Homo sapiens: one gene and its partners. The protein of the gene in region 2 purifies or fractionates together with the protein of the main gene of each other region. This does not show direct contact. Each region holds a gene or a part of one and is shown on either strand. Other genes may lie near its edges. The genes, in order: DUSP3, CPSF2 and CSTF3.

What was found.
Region 1: the proteins of CPSF2 (region 2) and DUSP3 purify together in Homo sapiens (affinity purification with mass spectrometry; one large-scale study listed by BioGRID and IntAct). This does not show direct contact.
Region 3: the proteins of CPSF2 (region 2) and CSTF3 purify together in Homo sapiens (affinity purification with western blotting; one study listed by BioGRID). This does not show direct contact.

Annotation. Positions count from the first base shown.
Region 1 is NC_000017.11:43,772,460-43,776,188, forward strand, and holds part of DUSP3 (dual specificity protein phosphatase 3), read right to left. Parts: intron 2,480-3,729; coding exon 2,253-2,479; intron 1-2,252. UniProt on the Homo sapiens protein: Shows activity both for tyrosine-protein phosphate and serine-protein phosphate, but displays a strong preference toward phosphotyrosines. Specifically dephosphorylates and inactivates ERK1 and ERK2.
Region 2 is NC_000014.9:92,124,969-92,128,468, reverse strand, and holds part of CPSF2 (cleavage and polyadenylation specificity factor subunit 2), read right to left. Parts: intron 2,348-3,500; 5' UTR 2,289-2,347; intron 1-2,288. UniProt on the Homo sapiens protein: Component of the cleavage and polyadenylation specificity factor (CPSF) complex that play a key role in pre-mRNA 3'-end formation, recognizing the AAUAAA signal sequence and interacting with poly(A) polymerase and other factors to bring about cleavage and poly(A) addition.
Region 3 is NC_000011.10:33,098,881-33,102,609, forward strand, and holds part of CSTF3 (cleavage stimulation factor subunit 3), read right to left. Parts: intron 3,460-3,729; coding exon 3,297-3,459; intron 838-3,296; coding exon 728-837; intron 271-727; coding exon 154-270; intron 1-153. UniProt on the Homo sapiens protein: One of the multiple factors required for polyadenylation and 3'-end cleavage of mammalian pre-mRNAs.

The DNA of each region.
Region 1 (3,729 bases), on a different chromosome or scaffold from region 2:
CTCAGCCCAGATGCCACCTCCTCCATGAAGCTGTTTTCCCAGCTAGAAGTGACTGCTCCCTCTTGAGTACCCTCAGCCATCCCACCCAGCTCTCAGTGATGGGTCCCTGGGCCCCACACACTGTTGGAGGCCAGCATGTTTCTGTTGACTCACTTCGCCACTCATTCTTAGAAGCATTTATACTTGGCATTAGAGCCCATGGAATTCTTCATCACTTGCTCATTCATCATTTGCAGTGTACCTACTATGTGCCTGATGCTACATCAGGTGCTAAGGAGACAGACAAGGAACAAAGTAGACCCAGCCTGAGGGCAGGCTTCATGGAAGAGAGGACACCATGCCAAGGACAAGGTGGAGTTTGCCAGAGGAAGGGGTAGGGAGAGGCAGAGAGAACTTTTCAGACTAAAGACCCAGCACACCTGGACTGAGACAGGTCAAAAAAAGGGCGTGTTCCTAGTTGTTTGGAAAGAGGAAACAAAGTCAGAGAGCTTGAAATTCCCTGAATGAATAACCAATTGCTATTATACGAGAACAACAAAATCCTTCCCCTTCGCCCAGCCTATGTTTACACAGGGTGAGGAACTCAGTACAGCTGGAGTGGAGGAGGTGAGCAGGGTTGGGGGGTGACAGTGACCAGGAAGGACCATGAGGGGCCTGTCAGCAAAGTCTGCAGATACTCCACAGTAAAGCTTCTCTCTGAGCCCTGAGCGTTCACTGTCCAGTGGTCTAGAAAATTCTGTTTACTGGAAATCATTCAGACAGTGAGCCTGCTGGGCCCAAGAGTCATCAGTGTAGTACAGCCAAGGCTGTTCACACCTCATGGGGGTCCCCTCCGCTGGGAGGGTTTGGGGTGGGGAGAGACGAAGAGGTAAAGGGAGGAGCTGAGAGAAACAGCTAAAAGCAGAAAGGGAGAAAGGGCAAGTGGCCCAGCCTGCTCAGCTGATGTCTGCTTTGTGGCCTTCTAGGGTTTCTTGCTGGAATGCCTTGGTGACTGCCAGCGCCTTGGTAGTTCTCCTTCAGTCTTATCTTATATTTGGGGGCTGCAGGAAGTGTTTCGTAAGTGGCTGGAAGATTTGGCCAGGGGGGCTGTGGTTTGCTGACTGCCAACCTAAGCTGACCGCAGCTACCCCTTTTCTCCTTGCCAGGCAATCACGTGAATCTCTAGCCAATGAGATGTGAGGGGTATTTCTGGGAAATGTTTTACTTGTTCTTAAAGAGAGAGACTGGGCATGGTGGCACGTGCTTGTAGTCCCAGCTACTCAGGAGGCTGAGGTGAGAGGACTGCTTGAGCCCAGGAGTTGGAGACCAGTCTAGACAACATAGCAAGACCCTGTCTCTTTAAAAAAGAGAGAGAGAGTGGCCAGGCGCGGTGGCTCATGCCTGTAATCCCAGCACTTTGGGAGGCAGAGGGAGGCGGATCACCTGAGGTCAGGAGTTGGAGACCAGCCTGACCAACATGGTGAAACCCCATCTCTACTAAAAATACAAAATTAGCCAGGCGTGGGGGCGCATGCCTGTAATCCCAGCTACTTGGGAGGCTGAGGCGGGAGGCTGAGGCAGGAGAATCGCTTGAACCTGGGAGGTGGAGGTTGCGGTGAGCCAAGATCGCGCCATTGCTCTTCAGCCTGGGCAACAAGAGTGAAACTCCATCTAAAAAAAAAAAAAAAAAAAAAAAAGGAGAGAGAGAAGAGGAAAAAAAAGAGTGGGAAGAGATGGCTGCAGGGCCTCATCTGCTGTACTTTGTCCTGCTTGGATGTGGTGACTGGATCCCATCTTGGGACCATGACGGGAGCACCCAACACTGAGGTGGCAGAAGAGAGAAAGGGAAAGGGCCTGGTCCAGAGGCCACCATGGAGCTGCTGAATCAAGCAGCCCCTTAATCAACCAGCCCCCATGCTCCTTCACCTCAGGACTTCTTGCCATGCACATTAACACATTAACACATCTTCCTCATCGTTACAGCTGTTTGAATGGGGGACGTGTAAGCAACTGGAAACCAACCTCCAGCCAAAGTGCAGTCAAACGCGAGGACCCTGGGGCTGCCATGGTGTGAATGAGTTGCACATCCTGTGACACACGGGGCCACTTGACAGCCAGCCAGGTGAGCAGAGAGAGACCTACAGCTCTGTCGTTCACCCCAGAAGATGGGAAACAAGGGAGTTTCTAAGAAGAGACCTGTTGTGGGCCTGTTTTCCAGAGGGACAGTCCAGTCAGAGCTGCCTCCCATCTTTTCCTGGTGGGAGGTCCCTTACCATTCTTTTGAGCCAAAGCCTGGTCAATGAAGTCGGCAGCCCTTTCAAAGTAAGCGCTGAGGTTGAACTCCTGTGTGTCGTTGGCCTTGATGCCCAGGTATGTGATGCCGGAGTCCTTGTAGAAGTTGGCATTGGTGTTGACGTGCATGAAGGACCTGCCCTCAGCCGCGTTCAGCACATGGGTGATGCCTAGTTTCTGCAGCTTGGGGATGTCCTGAGCCACAGACCTGGACAGGAGACAGTGGTGGGGATGATTAACCAACCAAATGGCAGCCCCAGGGGGAGGAAGATGGAGAAGGATTTAAGCCTCTTAGCAAAGCAAGGAAACCCTCCATGCTCTGGCCCCTGCCAGCTTCTCCTGCCTCATCTTATGACCTCTTCCCTCACTCTGGCCATATCGAATTGCCAGCAGCTTCCCCAAATAGACTGGTGGTTTCATAGCCATGCTGTCCCCTCTGTCTGGAATGCTCTTTCCCACCTTCTCTGGAGAAATGCGCCCTCTCATCTTTCACACCCTCCGCAGTGTTTGTCTCCCCTCCATTCCATTTGGCCCCATGCTCCCTAAGCTGTGGTGGGGGTGTACATAGCCAACTGGTTACAGATGGGCTCTGGAACCAGACTAACTGGGTCTGCATCCTGCCCAGGTACTAGCCAGGCAACCTTAAGCAAGCCATTTAACCTTTCTGTGCCTCAGTTTCCCTCTCTGTAAAATGGGGATAACAGTGCCTTCTCCTTGAGGTTGTTATGAGTATTAAATGGGCTATTCCATTGACAGAGCTGGACACGGTAGTGAGCACTATGATTCTAATGCTTGATTGTGCTTCTGTGTTTAGACATCCAGACTGTGAGCTCCTTGAGAGAGGAACCATGTCTGCTTTAAGTCTGTTTCCCCACCATCTGCTATAGTACCTGCTACATAGTAGGTGCTGAATAAATAAGCGGTGAATGAGTGCAAAAGAATAAATTTGTCACGTACCAGGCAGCCCCCTCCCTGCCCCCAGAGGGATCCTACCTGCCACATTCCACTGGCTACGTTTCCAAAGCTCTTTTGGGTGATTTAGTACTTGGGGAGTAAGTGGCCCCAACAGAACTATGGGAGGTTACAAAATAATTTATCTAAGGTCGGGTGCAGTGGCTCACACCTGTAATCCCAGCACTCTGGGAAGCCGAGGCAGGTGGATCACCTGTCAGGAGTTCGGGACCAGCCTGGCCAACATGGTGAAACCCCGTCTCTACTAAAAATACAAAAGTGAGCCGGGTGTGGTGGTACATGCCTGTAATCCCAGCTACTCTGGGATTACAGAGGCTGAGACAGGAGAATCACTTGAACCCGGGAGGTGGAGGTTGCAGTGTGCTGAGATTGTGCTATTGCACTCTAGCCTGGGTGACAGAGTGAGACTCCGTCTCGAAAAATAAAATAAAATAAAATAAAAATAATAATTGGTCTGAATGGTGAAAAGGCCCCTTTATTTCATCT
Region 2 (3,500 bases):
ACTCTGTTGCCAGGCTGGAGTGCAGTGTCACGATCTTGGCTCACTGCCACCTCCATCTCCCGGGTTCAAGTGATTCTCCTGCCTCAGCCACCTGAGTAGCTGGGACTACAGGCATGCACCACCACGCCCAGCTAATTCTTTTTGGTAGAGACGGAGTTTCACCATGTTGGCCACAATAGTCTCGATCTCTTGACCTCATGATCCACCTGGCCCATTTTTTTTCTTTTTTTTTTGAGACAGAGTTTCACTCTTGTCACCCAGGCTGGTATACAGTGGCAAGATCTCAGCTCACTGCAACCTCCACCTCCTGGGTTCAAGTATTTCTCCTGCCTCAGCCTCCCGAGTAGCTGGGATTACAGGCACCTGCCACCACACCTGGCTAACGCTATTTGCTCTTTAAATTCATGGCCAAAGGCCTCAAACAGGCCGTAAGTATTACCCTTCAATCTGACTTTTCTTAGTAGGTTGACTTTCAGTTTCTGAGACTACTACTCCACACCTCCTCCTCTTTGTTCAAAGATCACCCATCCCTCCCTCCACCCTAGTCTCAGCTGATAATCTCATTTCATTCTTCAATCAGAAAATAAAATTAGACAATAATTTCTCATTTTCCAGATACTACATCTATTAACCTATCTGCATGTACACTGTTGGGTCTCCTGTTGTATAGAATAGTCCTGCTCCCATCCAAGGCCAATCCCTCTATGTGTGCCGTTGATCCCATTCTTATTCACCTTCTGAAAGACTTGACATCTTCAGTCATTCGCTCTTTCCCCTGCATCAACGTATCACTGATGTACCATTCCCACAAGCTTATAAAAATACTCTAGAATTTCCCAACTTATAAGAACCCTCTCTTAACCCTTCAACCCCCAACAACCACTACATCATTTTTGGGTTTCCCTTTCACAGCAAAAGTTCTCAGAATATTTGTCCACAGATATATCTCCACTTCCTCACCTCCCATTTGCACTAAGTCTGAGAAGCCAGAGAAATGTCCATTGGCTTAAGTTGTATAGAGGTTTATCAATGACCTTTATAAAACACTTCCAGTGATATACTTTCATAACAACTCATTATATTTCTCAAATTTTCTTCTCTCTTCACTGTGACCAAAACCTCTAACTTTTATATATATTTTCCCTGTCTCTAATTTATTCTGAGTCATTCTCAGAGGTAGTCATTCTCTGACCACCCTAAAGTCCTTCTTCACATCCATTACAACATCATTCTATTTCCCTCAAAATACTTAGTGCTCTCTAATTGCTACTTATTTATTTACTTGCTTTGTCTGTCACCTTCTCCCCTCCTGTGCCCACACTGGAATGCAGACTCCATGAAGGTAAAGACCTTCTCTGTTTTCATCACAGTTACATTCCAGCGCCTCCACAGTGCCTAATATACAGTGGTAGCCGATAAATGTTTCTTAAAGGAAGGAATGGGGCATGGCTAGTATTAAATAAGCTCACTGTCCTTACCACACCATAAACCAGAACCCATCCACATGTATTTGCCCTTGCTTGGGAGAGCTCTCTGAGTACAGGAGTTGGCTTGATCCATTTTTTTATCCTTAGTACATTAGCACATCCCTGCACATAGTGGTTGTTCAATAAATAACTGTTGGTAAGTTAAAATTTAAAATATATTGACTTGTTTTTGTTTCCTGAAACAGGATCTTGCTCTGGTACCCAGGCTGGAGTGCAGTGGTGCAATCATGGCTCATTTGCAGCTTCAACCTCCTGGGCTCAAGTGATCCTCCCACCTCAGCCTCCTGGGTAGCTGGGACTACGGGCACGCACCACCACACTCGGCTAATTTTTTGTAGAGACAGGGTTTCACTATGTTGCCCAGGCTGGTCTTTAACTCCTGGGCTCAAGTGATCCACCCACCTTGGCCTCCCCAAATGCTGGAATTACAGGTGTGAGACAGCACGCCTGGCCTTCATGTGTTCTTATTTGGGGTACAAAGACATTAATTCTCTATTTGATGAAAAACGTTTATAAATACAATTTTGGAAAGGACCTTGGAAATTATCCCTGTCAAAAAGCTTACTGTACCACAATTATATTAATGGCCTAAGGGAAACTCTTTTCTACTTAAGTCTTCCTTAATTCCCACTTTCTTCATTTAGATTATGAAGTAACATGCAAGGTATCTTGCAGCTAGAACTGAGTAAGTTCATATTAAAACTGTTTTGCAGACAGACCAAGATTTCAACAGATGAAAAGATATTTTCACTACAATTATTCATAATAAAGCTATATCTTTATCAAACATTCACTACTTACTGATATCTTAGTCGTATATATGATGAAACACCAGGAATTCTGAAGAGTTCTTTATTAATCTAAAAAATAAATAAAAGCCTTATGAATGTGGTATTATGATTTCATTCTGTTTATAATTATGGTGTTTAATTTGTATCTTGCCCTAAGGCATCAGGAGCAGCAGCAAGTAGTATAATACGTGGTCCTTTTTTAAAAAAGAGATCTGTCATTAATTTTAGGAATCTTAAGCTTACATAACAGATAATAAAAGACATAAAAATATTTAGGAAGTTTTTTTTTAAGTTGACATTACCTTATGTTATTGAGAATCATAGAAGAGGTGGGATTTAAGATTACTCACTAAGGATTGGTAAGACATGGGTAGAAACAAAGAGAAGGTACTCAAAACAGAGGAGTAACAGGAGTAAAGGAATACCAGACATCTCAGATCTCTACACTTTTGAGTAAGTTTTAAAGTACCAGTGAAAAAACTAGCCTGGAAAACATTCACAAAAGCAAAAAATAAAAGATAAGGCCTAATGAACAGAAAGGGGCCAGATAGTGAAAGGCCTTGGAAACTGTGAACCTAGTCCTGCAGGCAACAGAAACATTTTAAGACTCATTATCAAGTAGAAAGATGGCATGATACAGGTAATTCTGTATTTTGGGGATATTAGCTGGTGTGTATGATTGATGAGATGATACAGAAAGCAGGGAGATAAAAAGCGAAAGTATTTAGTGGACCACCCCTTCCTAACGTTACTGATTCTATCTTGTGACCAAATTTCTTCAGTCTCAAATTGTATTTTATAGCTCTGCGACATGAATATATTAGTTGTTATCTAAGTAACCAAGGTTTGAAATGCTACATGCTGATTCTTCACTTCTGGGACAGTCTATTATTACCAGTTCCTGATTATTCTTCCCTCAGGAACGCTTTGCACATCATTCCCTTTCTATCCCACTGCCAGTACCCTAATACAGGAAGGGCCTCACTACCTTATGTTTGGGTTTCTCAGTTTCTCTGCCTCCAGTATTTCCTCCCTTCATCCAACCTAAACATTGCTACCAGATTCATCTTCAGAAATACCCTGCACCTATTACCCCTTGCTCAGAAATCTCTGAAGGCTTCTTACTGCTTGAGAAAAGACAAACCAAATGCCTTAACTGGCAATGGAGGTTGCCAGGAAGCCACCCTGACATCACTGCTCAATGTCTTCAGGCCCAGCTCAT
Region 3 (3,729 bases), on a different chromosome or scaffold from region 2:
AAATATAGTATAAGCTGACAACTAATAACTGTTCATTTGGCATCATCTCTGTCTACCAAAAGCAATATGCCTGGCAAACAAGCAGCCAGAAAAAAAGTTCAGTCCTGCACTAAAAAATTGAATTATAAGAAGGCTCTAAACATTTTTACTTACCTCTTCATAATCTGCATATGCAAAATAAAGAAGCATATTCTTCTTCAATAAAGTGCTTATGGCTCTTTCATATATATTAGCAGCTTCATCACTAAATAATTTGGCATTATTCATATCCTGGTAGAAAAAAAAGAAAGCTCATCTTCAATAATTTTAATATAGTTGTGAGAGAATAAAATTAATAAAGTTACATCTACTTTATTTTATTTATGTGTCTAAGAAAGCATACATGTATGTACACACATATATATGTATCCACACACACACATACATAAACACATATGCATTTCTGGATTCTAAAAAAATTCCAAAAACTCCTTTCATTATTTTAACTTACAAAATAACCATGCAAGTACTCTAAATGATTCATTACTTTGATACGTTAAAAAACTGCCAGTTTATTTTAATTCTAAGGAGGTCTAATTATATGAGTGTCACTAAGATTCATATGAACGTAAACTTAAATTTTCAATACTTATGCTTTATTACCAAAATTCAGTTATATTTTTCAGTAAATAATTGCTATATCAAAACCACAAAAATATCAAAGTGGGGATAGGGAAGGAACACTTACTCCCTTTTCTGCGAGCAGTTTACTTGACTGCTCAAGATACTGGGCAGCTTCATACCAAATATCAGGGTGATGGCCCAGCACAAGCAGGCACTGTTCATAAGCAAACATAACTAAGGGAAGAAATTAACAAACAATATTCAATTAAAATAATTATTATTTGTAAAACTATCAATGTAAATATCATAACCAAATTAGGCTCCTCAAAAATTAATGATAATTAGAAATAAAAAGCTTTAGTGATTTCTGGCACCATCATCCATCCAAGTTCCCTCCATCTATCCATCACTTATTAATTTTTTTTATTTTTGGAAGCAGGGTCTCTGTCACGTAGGCTGGAGTGCAGTGGCACAAATATGGTTCACTGCAGCCTCGACCTCCTGGGCTCAAGTGGTTTTCCTGCCTCAGCCTCCCAAGTAGCTGAGACCAGGCGTGTGCCACCACATCTGGCTTATTTTTAAAAATCTTGTGGCCAGGTGCGGTGGCTCACATCTGTAATCCCAGCACTCTGGGAGGCCAAGGCAGGCGGATCATAAGGTCAGGAGATCGAGACCATCCTGGCTAACATGGTGAAACCCTGTCTCTACTGAAATACAAAAAATTAGCCAGGCATGGTGGTGGGTGCCTGTAGCCCCAGCTACTCTGGAGGCTGAGGCAGGAGAATGGCATGAACCCGGGAGGCACAGCTTGCAGTGAGTGGAGATCACGCCACTGCACTCCAGCCTGGGCAACAGAGCAAGACTCCATCTCAAAAAAAAAAAAAAAAATCTTGTTTAGAGACGGGGTTTCACCATGTTGCCAAGGCTTGTCTTGAACCCCTGGGCTCAAGCAATCCTCCTGCCTCAGCCTCCCAAAGTGCTGGGATTACAGATGTGAGCCACTGCACCCAGCCTAAGTTAATACTTATTGAGCACCAACTATATGCCAGGGAATGTGGAAGGCACGGTGAATATACCAGTGAGTAAGACTTCCTATATTCAAGAAGTCTGCAGTATACGGGGAGGACAGACAGAAAGCAAAGATCAAAAGGATTATGATGATGAAAGTACAGTATACTCTGAAAACTTACAGCAGCAGGACTTAACATAGTTTAGGGACTCAAGAAAGGCTTCACTAAGGAACTGACATCTAGCACAACACCTGAAGAAGGGATGAAGCTGGTCAGAGGCAAATAAGTGAAGTGGAGTAAGGATGGGGTAGATACAAAAATGGAGTGGGCAAAGGAAACAATATTTGCAAAGACCTGCAAGTAAGATAGCAAGGCAACAGCAAGGCAAGATTGAGGAATTCAATAAAGCTCCAAATTAAGAGTCTGGCACTGACAGAGTAGTTTGTATCAGACCAACCCTCAGCAAGTAAAAATTATAAATAAACAAAACACAAATACAAAAGCAACTATCTAAATGTACTGGAAATGACCAAAAGAAGCAGAAATCAGGAGACTGAGCCCTTAAAAAGACAGAACAACACTAGGTGAGATCCATATTTAAATATGGCTTTTCCCTTCAAACGCATGCCCATGTTGTGCACTTCTGGGATAGCTAGAACTCAAGTCAAATGCTGCAGTCTTACTGTCTTGAAGTAACATGGAGTTCTGGCCTATGAGAGCAGCTGGAAATTGAGGAGACATCCCCAAAAGGAGAAAGCCAGATCCCGAAAATCTGGGCATAAATGTTCTCAAATCCTCAGCTGATCCCTAAAATGTACATACACAGGGAAGAATACAAACAGACCAGCAGAAAACAAAGCTGGAAGGCAGAAAGAGTTAAATAGATACCTCAGCAACTAAGGGAGATGAAGTTTAGAATTTGAGTCCGATCCAATTAGATGGTTGGGGTAAACACCTTAGACTTTTCATTGTCTTAGGAGTAAAGACTATGTCCCAAGAATAAGGTATTTAATCTGAGATTAATGGTAAAACTAAAACAGACCTGTCTTCATAGTATAAAACTAAGCCTCCACAAAGTCCAAGTAATCTGACAGTAGTATTTAACTTCCTGCTAAAATAAAACATTCTTCAGAGGAAGATGACAGAATCTACAGTCTTTACAATGTTTCATTTGTACATTTGTACAATATCTAAAAGAAAAAATTTAAACAGGAAATAGGGAAATGTAAACCACAGTCAAGAGAAAAAGCAATCAAAGAAAATAAACTCCATGGTGGTTGAAGGCCCAGATGTTGGAATTGGCAGATGAGGACTTTATAACTACTATTATAAATATGTTCTAAGAAACAAAGAAAAAGATGGTAATGAACACACAAGGAATCTCAACTAAGAAATGGACACCATAAAAAAGAAATATAAAAAATAAAAAATTTCTAAAATGGAAATTTATAGAATTGAAAAATATAGTATCTGAAATAAAGCGTTCACTGGATGGGCTTAATTGCAGACTGCATATGATGAAAACAAAGGTTCAGTGAATATGGAGATAGATCTATAGGAATTATTGAATCTGAAGAACAAAAGAAAAAAAGATTAGGGGTAAGAAAATTTTAGTAACCTATGGGGATACCAAGTGGCCTAACATACATGTAACTGAAGTCCCATGAGGGTTAATCATGTTACCTCTTTTTGTTATAAGGGTCTGATCCTCTGTACGAAGAGGGTTGCTCTTTTCCCACTGTATATATTTCTTCCACATATCTACTTGTTGAGCTTCTTGAGGAGTATTCTGAGGAGGCACCGAGGGAGCATTACGGTCCAAGCCTTTCATTACTGTCTCATATTCCTAGACAACAAGGATTTAGAATTCTTTGGTGAGCCAGGAACAACTGAGATATATGGCGGATGGGGTAGATCAGTTTGGAAGACTGTTCAAGATGCCTACTTTTTCCAAATACCACTTTGTTAATATAATCTAAAAACTATTTAAGAGTAGAGAGAAAGATAAGAGTATTACCCACTCAAGAACAGGTTCCCAGGAGTGGGTAAACAAAACACCCATGGGCCCTCTCTGTAAGTGATCTAGGAGGTTACTTTCCAGGATGTAAGAGTTGAC